2 separate regions of the Homo sapiens genome follow, and region 1 is linked to region 2. Evidence: fine-mapped expression QTL. A gene starts in region 2. The other region holds a variant in brackets. All regions are shown on one strand. Distances are between the middles of the regions. Region 1 has its middle 21 kb from the start of OR6N2. Region 2 holds the start of MNDA (myeloid cell nuclear differentiation antigen).

Region 1 (2,925 bases), 30 kb before region 2:
AGTTGCTTTTACCTAGGAAAGAAAAAAAAAATCAAGGATTTGATTTCTACTATTTTGCTGTTGTTGTTTTTCTCCACAACATTAATTTTCAAGGTTTGACAATATTAAAATTGGTTTGCCTTTATTTAGGATCCACCAAATGTCAGAAAAGAGAATATAGTCCGTATCTGAGCTGGATGCTCAGAGAAAATTTACCTGAGGGTATATTGCCATAGAAAAACCTCAAATTGGACAACTTATCCACATTTAATAGGTGGGGACCCCAGAACATTCTGTGATCTTAGTCAAATTTACTAAATTGAGAGGGAGATAATGCTGCTGTATGCTACTCCACACACATTGTTCTCTACACATATCTTTTCTCTTAAAATAAGCTAAAATAAATACAAAGTCATCCCTGCATTTGGAAAGAAAGCATTTCAACATCATTTTTCAAAAACAGGAAACCCAAAACTTACGCTATCACTAAAAAGAAATTTTAAAAGGTTGTCCAGAGAGTTTTTATTTCAAAAATAAGTTTTCTTTTTGTATCTTCAATAAGCTATGGCTATGTTATCCTCAGACAGGGAATCTCCTAGTAGGATCCTACAGTTCCACGCTTGGTCTTCAGAGAACCTTCAGAGAAGTAGCAACTGGGTGCCCAGTTAGCATTCTAAAGTCTAAGGCATGAGAAGAGATCACAATACACTTCTACACTTCCATGAGACTTTCTTTTGTTTTGCTCATTCACTTCTCACCAATCCATGCACTCCTTCCCACCACTTTTCATGACCTCCCATCATCACAAAAGTACATAGAACAAAATGAAAAAAAGTCTGTTTCTTGGTGTTAGTCAGTATGTTGCTGCACATACTGGTGTGTGTGTGTGTGTGTGTGTGTGTGTGGTCTGTCTGTGTGTGTATGTGAAGAAGAGAAAAAGGTGGGGGTGGCGGTGGGGAGAGAGAGAGTGGGTTGGCTCCTTAAAACAAAATTGTTAAATGCCGGGGTTTTTTTCCCACCCACCTTGCCAGAAAACAGGAGAGACAGAAAAGTATCCATCTAGTCCCTAAAGAAATGTCCCATCTGTCAAAGTCAGAACTGCAGGGTTACATGAAGAATCAATGAACAGACAAAGTACATTTTAAAGAAGGATTCCTAAGGGAGACATGCATCAGGAATTCTCAAAGGGAATGAGGAGAGAGAGGAATTGGTAAGCTAAGGCCCCTATATTGTTGGTCTAGAAGGGCTGTAGCGCAACAGAAAAAGCATTCTATTTCTAAATTGACTTTGTAAACTTGTTTTGCCACTAACTCAAAATGAACATTGGGCTTAACCATTTCTCCTTTCTTTACTTCAACTTCCCCTTCTCTATATAAATGTTGTATAAAGCCCCTCACCACCCTGGTAGTCTGTGGATCTCTAAAGCCATTGAAAAATGTTTCTAGGGTGGATATGGAGTTGGGTGGTCTATATCAATGTCCCTGGAGTTTTCTTTCCATATTCTAATAGTCCTTATCTGGGAAAGATCAAAGCCTTTACCTAGTTCTCTTTTTTAGATACTCTAATCTTTTCTGTACCACCCCTGCCCATTACCTGATGGTTTTGATGACATTAGAATTTACAACATCCTCCTCTGCATCTTTTCTACCCCAAGACACTCCCCTACTTA[T/C]ATTTCATGTTCCTGGAAATGCTGACCTCCCAGGGGCTCCTTGCTATATGTTCTCTGGAGTTGCTAAGTGTGTAAAGTTTTTTGTAAGTGCTCCTCTGGGGTAGGAAGTTGGACACAGAGAAGTAAAGCAGCCCTACTCTCTTTCAAATGGCTTTTCTGCAACCCTCACTGGCTCTAGAATCCAATCCCAGGGACACTGCCTCTTCTGGGACTCTAGAAGTTCTGCAAGTCCCTCATAGCACTTTTTTTTTTTTTTTTTTTTTTTTTTGAAACGGAGTCTTGCTCTGTCACCCAGGCTGGAGTGCAGTGGAGCGATCTCGGCTCACTGCAACCTCTGCCTTCCAGGTTCAAGCGATTCTCCTGCCTCAGCCTCCCAAGTAGCTGGGACAACAGGCATGTGCCACCACACCCAGCTAATTTTTTGTATTTTTTAGTAGAGACAGGGTTTCACCATTTTAGCCAAGATGGTCTCGCTCTCCTGACCTCGTGATCCACCCGCCTTGGCCTCCCCGTCATAGCTTTTCATGAGAAGAGACAATCCAACTTGAATACATGAAGAATCACATCTTTAGCACCCCAGAGGTGAGTTTCATCTTAAAAGCTTTTTTTGCAAGGAGATTTCTCATCCATCCCTACTAACCTCACCACATCACCATATTATCACAGCACAGGCACCACTATCACTTTTGCGCTTACCATCTCTACCTTTGTTACTCTCACCACTGTCCCTCCCTTTGCCATGTCAGCTATCTTTAGCCATTGTTCCAAATGATTGATGTTGAATACCTAATACACTTGTCTAAGTCTCCATCACCAGTATTATTACCATTACTTACATTATCACTACCATTATTATTACCCAGGCATCTTCATGAGACTAATCTACTTTTTCATTATTACTTTTACTTATATCCATATCCTCAATATGTTCATCAACATCCTAATCTTGACATCTGAACTCTTATCTCAGCTGTGTGTTCTCTGTGGGCATGTACTTAGATGGATATGGAGTCCAGATGAATAATGGAATTACAGCATTTATCTATCAGAAGTAAGGTATTTGAATCATTCATAGCCCCAAATGTACTTTTATTTTTCAGAATCAGGTGGAAAGAAAGCAGTTGCTATATTAAATTTAAGATACGGAGGTAACCATAAAAAGATTAACAAGTAAATCATATTAAACGGAAGAAAAATACTAAGTGTTCTGAGTTCAAATTGGAAAAGCTTTCCTGTAGGAGACGGAAAGTTTCTGAGCCAAAGGAAAGGAAGATATT
Region 2 (2,925 bases):
AAGGCAAGGAGGAGCAAGTCACATCTTACGTAGATGGCAGCAGGCAAAGAGAGAGCTTGCTCAGGGCAACTCCCATTTTTTAAAAACTATTTTAAAACGATCAGATCTCATGAGACCCATTTACTATCATGAGAACAGCATGGGAAAGATCTGCCCCCATAATTCATTCATCTTCCACCAGGTCCCTTCCACAACACGTGGGAATTATGGGAGCTACAAGATGGGATTTGGGTGGGAACACAGAGCCAAACCATATCAGGGCAGAAAGCTGTCCTGAAACATGGTAACTCCTGTCGTGAGCTCTTTTGGTTCCCAAACACTGAAGTGGGGCACCTGATAAGGTTTCCTTGTGTTCCTCTTTACCCTTTACCTTAAGACCTGCTCGAAGCATCAGCATAAGAGAGAAACTGAAACAATGAACACCCACATGTGTTAGTGGCTGTCATTCTAGATCCTCTTGGTTTTTTCTGATTTACCCTGCTTTAGTGGGGTTTAGACAGTTTCCAAATCCAAACTTTAACTCTCTCTATGCTGCTGGTTTGGATTAAGACAATCAGCTTTATTCTTCTCTGTAGATGGCCTTGGATCATTTTCCCCTATTAGCTGTTTTGGGATCCTTTTCCAGTCATGACCACATTTTGCTTACAGATCAGCTAGTTGGTAACCACAGCACTGTCTGCTAACTGATACCATTCATTTGACAATTCAGAGTTATGATACTTTGTAGTGCACCCACTGTTCTTCACAGGAAAAAAAAATTGCAGTACAAAGGGTTTATCAGGCCCCCTATCATTCCAGAGTTTCAGTGCTGTTCCAGAATGTTCAAGGTTTCAGTCATGATATGAACCAACTATCCATAAATAATGCAAAAAGCATGAGTAATCATGAATTTAATAATCAAGGTAAGGCAGCTCAGTTATTATACTCAAGAGAGCAACTAGTATGAAACTCTTTCAAATTATTTGAATAAGGATTTACATATTCATAATGACTTTCTGCCTCTGTCAAGCTCCAGGTGTATCAGTTATTAATAACTGGGTGAATATGTAGGTACTATTTAAACAAAAACAATTTCACAGTAGACCCACCCCTATCCAAGAGATGAAGTCAAGTTCTGGTAGCAATAGACATCTCTACCAAGATCTCCTGCTCCTGCCACTCTGTGAACAGGAAAGGAGGGAGAAACTTTGGTGTTTTGCCTTTCCCAATTTATATTAAGATCCTTATTCAAGCGGCTACCGGTTTCTAATGACCTATATGTAAGTTAGCTTTATAAGAAAGTTCTGAGTTTGAAACTCCTTTCAGCAAGTATTTGTAAGTCAAAAAAGCGAAGAAGAGGCACCATTTACTGTCATTTCTCCTTGTGACTGAGATTACTTACTACAAAGAGGAACTGACCACTTTCTCTGACATCTGAAATAGAAAGCTACAAAGGCTGATAGGCGTGGCTTCAAAATTGTTTCATGATTACATAACTTCTTTCTAGTTAGGAATTAGGACAGTGTAAGAAGGCCATCTACAATCAAGATTGAGAGTGGCTCTAACAAGTGCCATTTTTCCTTGTTAGCTTTCATTTCTCAGCCCTTTACAAGATTAAAATAGTCTGCAGTTTAATCTCTCCAAAGCTTTACGGACAGTGATTCTGTCCTAAACAAGACAGTGACTCCAGGATTTCTGAAGACTATTGTGGAAGAAGCATCCATTAAGGTGAGATTTCTGGGAAGTTCTTTAGAGAAAGATCTAGGTATCTAGTTGGTAACCACACCATCTCAGTAGAGAATAATTGCCTGAGACCAGAAGTGTTGTTATCAATCATATTCAGAAAACTGAGAACTGAATGCTTTAACTGTCTAGGTAGCAAATGGATATCTTTTATTCTACCACAATTGGGGTATGAACCAAAAAAATGTATTTTGTCTACAGCAGGTTTTAAAAATTAATTCTTGGGTGTCTTTTGGCATAAATTGATATTTAGAGGAGATACTTGGTTTTCTTGGCTGGAGGATGACTTGGTGACTGGGTTTGGGCCTAAGTTAAAAGACAAGACAGTCAGATAAGAAAATTATTATGAAGTAATATTTAGTAAAAAATAAACCAGGATATAAATCTCTATTATATGATTTTATCTCTATTTTAAAAAGCATAGACATGTGCACACATTAATTTCTCAATTTTACAAGCATTTACTCAAAAATAATCTTTACATTTTCATGAATCAGTTTCATTTTATGCTTCATTTTACAACAAGTGTAAGAAGAAATAATTCTCTTTTTCAAATGGTCTATGCTTTACTCAGTCATAGATAACATTTTTTGTGGCAAGGTATAATGAAAAGACAGGGAGAATCAATTATATATTTCCTACTTTGGGATACATTTTGACTTTTTTATGGCTTTGTACATATGAATGTTTTCTAATTACTCCATGAGTACTTGAGAAGAGTTTATAAACGTTGGATTCCAAATTCTATTTAAGTAAGATAAAGTTTCTTAAGTAAGCTTGTTAATTATGTTTGAAAAATCTAAATCTAAATCTAAGCTATTTTTTACCTTGTTCTTTCAGTAACTGAGAGATGTGGTGAAATCTCCAACTCTAATAGTGATTTTGTTAATTTCTCATTGTAGTTCTTTTGATTTCTACCATATATTTTTACATAGAATATGTATATCTAAGTATATATGTTATGTGTGTGTTTAGAGAGAAGAAAAAACTTCTATATGCTACTTTATAAAGTAATAACAGATTATATTTATAATATAATTTAAATTATTATATCTTTTTCCAAGTTGCATACTTTACCATTATGTAGTGAAACTATGTACTGATACTTATTGACTTAAGCCTATTTTAAGCTACACTATTTTTCCTAAAAAGTCTTTCTTTAAGTTAGAGTTTGAAGAATATAACTTTTCCAGCTCTTTCTCA

The links.
Region 1: its variant is fine-mapped to the expression of MNDA in whole blood (TOPMed, PIP above 0.99).

Annotation. Positions count from the first base shown.
Region 1 is chr1:158,800,310-158,803,234 of GRCh38, forward strand. It overlaps a transcript of OR6N1 not described here. Among named protein-coding and RNA genes, the nearest start is that of OR6N2, 21 kb to the left of the region's middle. The variant T/C (reference allele first, on the strand shown) is at 1,649.
Region 2 is chr1:158,829,851-158,832,775 of GRCh38, forward strand. MNDA (myeloid cell nuclear differentiation antigen) reads left to right here and starts at 1,501. Exons shown (of 7, transcript NM_002432.3): 1 at 1,501-1,707. It also overlaps a transcript of OR6N1 not described here.